2 linked regions of the Homo sapiens genome follow. The protein of the gene in region 1 interacts with the protein of each later gene in a pairwise test. Each region holds a gene or a part of one and is shown in the gene's direction. Other genes may lie near its edges.

The links.
Region 2: the proteins of CAPN3 (region 1) and MYBPH interact in a two-hybrid assay, tested with the Homo sapiens proteins (one large-scale study listed by BioGRID and IntAct).

Annotation. Positions count from the first base shown.
Region 1 is NC_000015.10:42,404,256-42,408,061, forward strand, and holds part of CAPN3 (calpain-3), read left to right. Parts: intron 1-508; exon of another isoform or gene 509-700; intron 701-1,670; coding exon 1,671-1,688; intron 1,689-3,806. UniProt on the Homo sapiens protein: Calcium-regulated non-lysosomal thiol-protease. Proteolytically cleaves CTBP1 at 'His-409'. Mediates, with UTP25, the proteasome-independent degradation of p53/TP53.
Region 2 is NC_000001.11:203,173,011-203,177,524, reverse strand, and holds the start of MYBPH (myosin-binding protein H), read left to right. Parts: upstream 1-1,698; 5' UTR 1,699-1,758; coding exon of another isoform or gene 1,759-1,769; coding exon 1,770-1,974; intron 1,975-2,063; coding exon 2,064-2,198; intron 2,199-2,927; coding exon 2,928-3,095; intron 3,096-4,514. UniProt on the Homo sapiens protein: Binds to myosin; probably involved in interaction with thick myofilaments in the A-band.

The DNA of each region.
Region 1 (3,806 bases):
ATGTGCCTTGCAAGGCTTTTGTGAGGCTTCATCAATGAGGTGATGTATGTGAAGTGTCTGGCACAGCATGGGCACTCAAACAGAGGTGCTTTTTCACACTTTACACCTTACAAGGTACTTTTCACATGTGTCATCGCGATACTTGCAAGGTTGCTGAGAGGTAGATGGGGTTATAATCCCTGGTGTTCAAGAAAGGAAGCAGAGGCTCAATGGGGTTGAATGACTTCTCTGAGTTCACAGAGCTCAGTAAGTGGCAGGGTTGGAACTCACATTCAGACTCTCTGACTCCAGACTTAGGTTTTTCCGCACCTCCACGCTGAGGCCAGCCCCAGGCAGTGAGAAGCCCAAAGTCCGAAGCACAGAGTGCTGTGTGTTGGGCTCTGTGTGTTGAGGAGTCTTGTGACTGCCTTGGGGCTTTGGGCTGTAGTCAGCTGACAGTCCTTTGTGCTCTGTGGGGATGACGTAGGCCAATGGGAGGACAAATGCCCCTCTGAACTGTCTTCTGGGCAGTGACAGTCATGGTCATAATCCTGACCCTGAGCCAGTGCCAGGTCTCCAAGTGCCTTCTGAATGACCACAGGCGATTGGTTTTAGTGGTAGGTGTGTGGGGATCTGTTCTGGTCATCTGGATGCTGGTCATCGGTGTGCAGTATTGATCAGGACCTGCAAACCCAAAAGCTTATGGGAGCTGGCACGTCACGTGAGTAGAGCAGGCAGGTGCAGGGGTTTTGATGTCCCTGCACTGACACAGTTGTCTGCAGTTCTCAATTGACATTTCGCTCCAGTGTCGAGGGTCAACAGGAATGTTGGGGCGTGGGGCAATCTGGAAGACACAGGGAGCAGGGCCCTTGGCTCAGCTGATAGTTGCCGCAGGGATTACAGGCCCAGGGCAGCCTGCCACAGCTGGGGCTTTTACCAAAGAAAATCTCCCTATGTTAAATGCTTGCTCAAAAATTTTTAAAAAATATTCTGTAAGTCAAAATCCATTGTTAGGTCAGTTTGAGAGAGCCATGTTTTTGGTGTTTTAGTAACCAATTTCATTTTTTTATTATTTATTTATTTGTTTATTTTTGAGACGGAGTTTCACTCTTGTCACCCAGGCTGGAGTGCAATGGCATGATCTCAGCTCACTGCAACCTCCGCCTCCCGGGTTCAAGCAATTCTCCTGCCTCAGCCTCCTGAGTAGCTGAGATTACAGGTGCCCACCATCACGCCTGGATAATTTTTGTATTTTTTAGTCGAGATGGGGTTTCACCATGTTGGCCAGGATAGTCCTGAACTACTGACCTCAGATAATCCGCCCACCTCAGCCTCCCAAAGTGCTGGGATTACAGGCATGAGCCAGCACGCCCGGCCACCAATTTCATTTTTTAAAAAAGGAAGAAAGAAAACCTTAGCCAGAAGATCTTTTTCCTTGCCATATGCAGTAAGAGTAGATTATAAAAACAAAGTCAGAGCAGTCACTGGTGTCTGGGCATGGAGGAGAAAGAAGAATTCTCTTCTCCCTTCACCCTCCATGCCCCTTTTTGGCTCCATGTGATTCAGATTTCTGGACCCTGGAGCCCCACCCCAAGCTAAAGACCAGGATACAGGGAAGCCAAAAGCCACTGGCGGTTCTGAGAACTTACTTTTCACTTATTCTGCATTTACTGTTTCCTTTTCTTATGCAGAAAAAGAAAAAAACCAAGGTAGGTGTGTGGGTAGAGAGCATGAAGTGTGTGTACTCATGCATATGTATGTGCATGCATGTGAAGTGTGCATGTGTGAGCTCATATGCATCCATGCACCAGACTTGCCTCTTCCTCCCCCTCCTTCCTGAGCTTCTGCTGGGGCCGAGCGTGCAGTAATGACAACTACGATTTGCTGGGGGAAGGCTACGTGCCAAGCACTCTTTTAGGTGCTTTCCATGATTAATTCCTTCCTCACAACAGCCCTATGAGATTAGTACTATAACTATCCCCATTTTCAGAGGGAGAAAAGGTACAGACTTGACTAACTTGCCCAAGGCCACACAGCCAGAGAGGGGCAGAGCCAGTACTTAGAGCCAGGCAGTCTGGGTCCAGAGTCCGTGTCCTGAACCACAAGAGGCCATCATACACCATCAGATTTGGTGCTAGCATTTCTGGTGGTGCCTGGTGGTGATGGATCCATCACAGGGGTCCTCCAGGTACTGGTGCTGGCCCAGACCAGAGCTGACACTCCTCAGGCACTACCACATTCCAGGCACTGTGCTTGGGGTCAGTCCCTCTCTTTTTTTTCCCCCCCAATTATAACAGTATCTACAAAGTAGGTGCTGTTATTTTTCCCCTTTCACAGGTGAGATAGACTCAAAGAAGTGAACTTGCCCAAGGAACAGAACTAATGAGTGGGGAAAATGGAACTGGAAACCATGTCTGTTTACTCCAAAACCTGTGTTTCTTGCCCTCTTTCTCTGATGCCAGCCCCCTACACTTCAAGGCCTGTGTTGTCCAGACCCACACTCGGGCCTGCCAGTGTGTGCCTGGCAGGGATGCTCCATGGCCACACCATATCCATCCTACACATCCCCCCTCAGACTGTGACCTCCATTTGCTCTGGGATCCCCACAAGCTTCAGCTGCTTGAGCAAGACACTGCTTAGAAGGCAGAGCAAGCCAAGGCCTCTGGGGCCTGCTGGGAGCCAAAGCTGGGGAGCCGTTTCCACGGGTCTATCTGCTTGAGCTGTCCTAGATGAGCAGCATGGAAGGGCAGTGGTGCATGAGTCCAGGCGGGCTGCTTTTCTGCTCCGAGAGGCTCTGCCTGCCCAGTTGTTCTCTGCATTGCAGCCTCAATCCCCACAGCCTTGCCTTCCCCCGGCTTTCCCTACAGGTGCACCGCATCCACAGTGTTGGCACCATGCAGCAGCCGCTCTCCGTCCTTTTCATATCCTTGTCACTTGCACGAGCATGTCTTGAAAATATCCCTTGTTTGTGTAGCATCTTAAATGTTTTTGCAGTATGATTTTGCATTCAGTATCTCATTTGATCCCCACAAGAGCCCTATGAGGAGGGAAAGCAGATTTTACCATTAAAGGATGAGTAAACTGAGGCCAGAGAGGATATTTTTGGTTTTTTTTGAGACAGTCTCACTCTGTCACCCAGCCTGGAGTGCAGTGGCTTGATCTTGGCTCACTGCAAGCTCCACCTCCCATGTTCACACCATTTTCCTGCCTCAGCCTCCCAAGTAGCTGGGACTACAGGCACCCACCACCACACCCAGCTAATTTTTTTGTATCTTTAGTAGAGATGGGGTTTCACCCAGTTAGCCAGGATGGTCTTGATCTCCTGACCTTGTGATCTGCCTGCTTCGGCCTCCTAAAGTGCTGGGATTACAGGCGTGAGCCACCGTGCCCGGCCAGAGAGGATATTTCTTATATGAGGGGCAGGGCTGGGATTCCAGCCCAGTGTTCTGATGGCTCACCCACTGACCATGCCACTAATCCGTGTCCTTTTTCAATCTATACTTTGCAGGGTTGTAGAGGTTCCTTTGAGGTGCCTCAGTAGCTGCCATGGTGATGTGGGGTGCTGAGGGCAAAGAGCTCTGTTCTCATTAATCAGAGAAGCTTGTGTTTTTATATACACCATGTTTCTGCAGGAAATTTAATTTGAACAGTGTTTCCATCTGGAAAAAAAAAAGTCTACAAAATACTTGACAATCACTGCACTAGATCATGCTGCTTTTAGCATTCTTAGCATTTCACGTGCTGAGCTCTCAATACTCTACCATGAGGAGGGATGGAGTGGGTATGAAAAGATAAAGAACTGAAGTCACACGGCTTGTCAGTGGCAG
Region 2 (4,514 bases), on another chromosome or scaffold:
TGCACTGCCACTCCCCAGCAGAGACAGCAGGGTTGAGAGGCAGCCACACCCTGGTGTCCCCAGTCCTCAGGAAAGGGAAGAGCATGCATGCTGCTGAGGGCCCTGAATAAATCACTTTTACTTATTTTTAAATTGTGAGCACATCTTACGTGCTAAAGAGTGCATAAATGTATTTGTTTAATTTGAAGAATAACTATGTAGTAAGAACCTGTGTAACCACCACCCAGGTCAGGAAAGGAAACCTCATTAGCACCCCTGCAGCCCTCACGATCACAGATATCCCTGTTCCTCCACCTAGAGGCAATCGCCATCCTAACTTTTGTACTGGCCTCATCTTCCTTTCTGGCCTTACCGCCTACGGATGTACCTTGAAGAAGGGAGCCTGGTGTTGACTGCATTTGGATTTAATGTAGATGAGACAGATGAGACGCAACATTTCTGTGTGCCTTGCTCTTCTGCTCATCACTGGGTCTGTGAGTAGCTGAAGTTGCTCATTTGACCCCATATTTTGCTTTACAGTTGCATAAACACTCCACAGTTATTTATCCATCCCACTGTTGAGGGACAGCTGTTTTCCCCCACATTTCAACAATTACAAATAACATTGCCATGAACCTTCTTCTCCATGTCTCCTGGGGCATGTGTGGGTGTTATATGAGCGGCACGGCTGGGTCACGGAGTAGGCACCTCATCCATTTTACTAGGCACTAGTAAAACTCTCACATTTTCCAGAGTGACTGCTCCAATACCAGCAATAAAAGTTCTTAATGTTCTCCCTCCTTCCTGACACATGGCATTTTCTGGCTTTCCAGTGATTCCCAGTCTTAACATTTTATCGAACAAATGAATCAATGACTAGAAATCTGGCCATATCTGCCTCCTTTGGCACACTGAGAAAGCCCATGCCCACAGCCTGCTTGGAAGAGTCTAGAAGCTTCAGAGTGCTCTCCTCCACTAGGGCATCTTCCAGATCTGCCTACAACTGCAACCCATCCCGAAGGGCGAGGGGTTCTCTGTAACAGGTGGAAAACTGAGGCCCACAGCAGGCATCAGGGGAGACGAGCTCCTTACCAGCCGCCCAACTGAGACAGGAGCCAGGAGACTTAGTGCCCCTTCCTGGGGTTCCAATGCTGGAGGACCATCCTCTGAGCAGCTCCACCCTCAGCATCTCAATTCCCTCCCTCTCTAGGGCCCTCAGCCTCATACAGCACAGGCGAGAGTCCCTGGGAACTGTGGGAGCCCAGGGAATGTGGACCCCAGAGGCAAAGCTGGGAGTGCTCACAAGGACGATTGTCCCAAACTGTCAGGGCCCCAGCACCCAGTCTGAGAAGCTCTGGGAACAAGTGGCCCCATAGACGCCAGACACACAGAGCCTGAGCTGGGCTCATTCTCCAGATAGAAGTTCTTCCTCCTATTGCCCTGACACCTGGCACGCGGCCTGCTCGATGTCCCATCTCACCCATCTGCGCCCTCCCCCAGCTGGGCACCAGCACCCTGGCTGTTGAAGGCCAGTCGGGGAGATGGATGAGGAAGTGACTCCTCAAGGGGCCCTTGTGGTTCCTCCCCCAGAGCTATTCCTGGCCTGGGCGCCTCTCCACCCTCCAGTCCTCCTGCTTGACCTGACCCCACAGCTGGGAATCGTTTGCTGGGGGTGGGGCAGCCCCTGACTATATAAGCCTGGACCTAGGTGTCCCAGGCACCCTAGAGGCCCAGGCCCCCCAACGGCTGACCCCTGCACACTCCACCCTGGCCCCCCAGCCAGTCCAGCAATGATGGAAAAAAACACCTCCGAGGGCCCTGCCTGCAGTCCAGAGGAGACCGCATCTGAATCTGCCAAGGTGCCCACAGCAGAGCCTCCCGGAGAAGTGGCAGTATCAGAGTCCACCAGAGAAGAGCAGGTGCCCAAGCCGCAGGCCCCTGCCCCACAGGCCCCTACAGCCTCCACAGCCACTAAGCCTGCACCCCCAAGTGAAGGTGACTGAAGGTGGGGCAGGGGGAGGAGGGAGGCAGGCATGTCAGGGGTGGAGGGGAGCTCTTGGCCATGAACCTCTTCATCTCCCCAGATGTCCCCAGTGCCCCACTGCTGCTGACCCTGGATGATGTGAGCAGCAGCTCTGTGACTGTGAGCTGGGAGCCCCCAGAGAGGCTGGGGAGGCTGGGCCTCCAGGGCTATGTGCTGGAGCTCTGCAGAGAGGGAGGTGAGTGCTGGGCTAAGTCTTGCATACACCCAGGGGAGGTTGTCATGGAGGGCTGCAGGGACAAGTGCACAGGCCCTGTGGTTGGTCAGTCTGGGAGAGATACAGAAGGAGGGGATGCGAGCAGTAGGCTCCTCAACCCACCCACCTGCCCTTTCTTGCTCCACCAGCAGGAGAGCAAGAAAGGGTAGGTGGGTGGGTTGAGGGGCTCCCTTGTCCTCAGCTCCAAGGAGCTTCTGAGTAAGGGAAGGGTAAGGGGACACTGGGTTCTCCTTTGGTGAGAAGGGAAGGAAGTGCTAAGTCTCAGAGGACCCCGAACTGTAGGAAGTGGAAAGGGAGGAGCTGGAGAGGGGAATGTTAGCGTAAGAGACAGTGAGGAGAAAGCGGGAATGGGGTGGGGGTGTGGGGGCCACATCCCTGCTGCCACTGTCCCCCTCCATGGCCCAAGTCCAGCCTGGCCTCTGCCTCTGCCCCTACCTTGCTGTGTGACTTTGCAAATGTGTCCAACCCTCTCTGGGCTTCAACAACCTCATCTCTAGCCACAATTTCAGGGCTCTAACATCAGGTGTCTTTGATGCCATTTGACAAGAAGTCAGGGAAGGCAAACAAGGGGAAAATGAGGCCCAGAGAGGGAGGCTGATTTCCCCAGATCACCAGCAGGAAAAGAAGCCCCATGGAGAGGGGCGCCTGTGGCCACATTGCAAAGACCTCACACTCTCTCCATCCCCTCAGCCTCGGAGTGGGTGCCTGTGAGTGCCCGGCCCATGATGGTGACCCAGCAGACTGTGCGGAACCTGGCTCTGGGAGACAAGTTCCTCCTGCGCGTGTCTGCAGTGAGTTCTGCAGGGGCTGGCCCGCCGGCCATGCTGGACCAGCCCATCCACATCCGAGAGAACATTGGTAAAGCCCATCCTGGCCTTCAGCTACCCAGCCCTTCCCAAACACCTTATCTAATGGAGAAACTGAGGCCAGCAGGTAGAGGGAACCAGGCAGTCATTTCCCCCGTCCCACGCTCACATGCACAAGCCACACGCTATCACCATCTTGCCTTAAGAAAGTTCCAGGTTCCTCAGCAGTAAGGGGCCTCTGGAGGTCTAAGAAGCCATTTCCCTGAGTGGTCCAGCCCCCACGCCTTGAGAAAGGGGCTCAGAAACAAAAGGTCAAGTTCCCTGGGTCACCTGCTCAATGCTAAGAGTCCATCTGTTCTATCTCCCATCTAATCTCAATCTCTCCAGTGGCCATAAATGCTCATTTTCTGCCCATTTCCTGTGGCCTGGGTTCCAGATTCTCTCAAAGGTCTTGAAACAGAGAGAAGGCGCTGCTTGCCCCTTGTTCCACCATGGCCCTAGTGGAAAGAAAAAGAAGGTCTGCAAAAGGCCCATGAAGACTTCTCCATTGCAGAGGGCATACCTCACTGGGGCCCCGCAGGCCAGCTGCCATCCCCATTGCTAATATTTCTATTTGCAAGGTGCATTAGCCTCAATCCTCCCCTCGCTCCCCTCCCGGAGCTGATCGGGTTTCAGTCTGTTAATGACAGTGAGTCATTTGGTCTGATCTGAGGTCTCTGGGGACAGCACAGTCCCCCAGGGTGAGGAGAGACACAGGCAGGCAGGTGGCCTGAAGCCTTCTCCACCTTCCTTCTTGCTCCTCCACTAGGGGATGGATGATTTCTGGTAGCTCTAGACAAGGCCTCCAGAAGGAGAGGGGATCCACAGGAGGGGTCAAGTCTGGATTCGAAAGGAAATGCTCAGCTCTGAGGCCTGAGAGACATGGGAACCATGGGGTTAGGGAGCTTAGATTCATAGATTATCAAGGCCCAAGGAGATCCCAAGGAGCCCAGGGCATCCCTTGAGGTCACCCAGCCTTTTATTGGCAGTCCCAGAGTCTGATGCCTACACAGGACCACTCATGTCCCACTGCACTGCAGAGCATCTTCTCTGGTGGCACCCAAAACCCAAGCCTCCCAACCCTAATTCCCAGCCTTTGGCTCTAGGTGAGATGTGGCCCCACCAGGCAGCTGCATTATGGCTGTGTCGACCCTAGTCCTGGAGGTGCCAGGAAGGCTTCTTGGTTGGGACGGTGCTGGGCCTTCCCCAGGGAACCAGGGAGCTCAGACTCTGAGAGGCCCCTGAGGCCCAGCATTGATGGACCCAGCCAGACTCAGCACCCACTTCTCCATTCAAATTCCTCTGGCAGGAGAGAAGGGGATTTCCTGGAGAGAAGAGGGAGAGGAGGCTGTGAACAAGTGGGGAACAGCCAGGCTTATCACAGGGCAGAGTGGGGGCCCTGTCCAGGATCCTTGGCTGCTCAGCTGTCTCT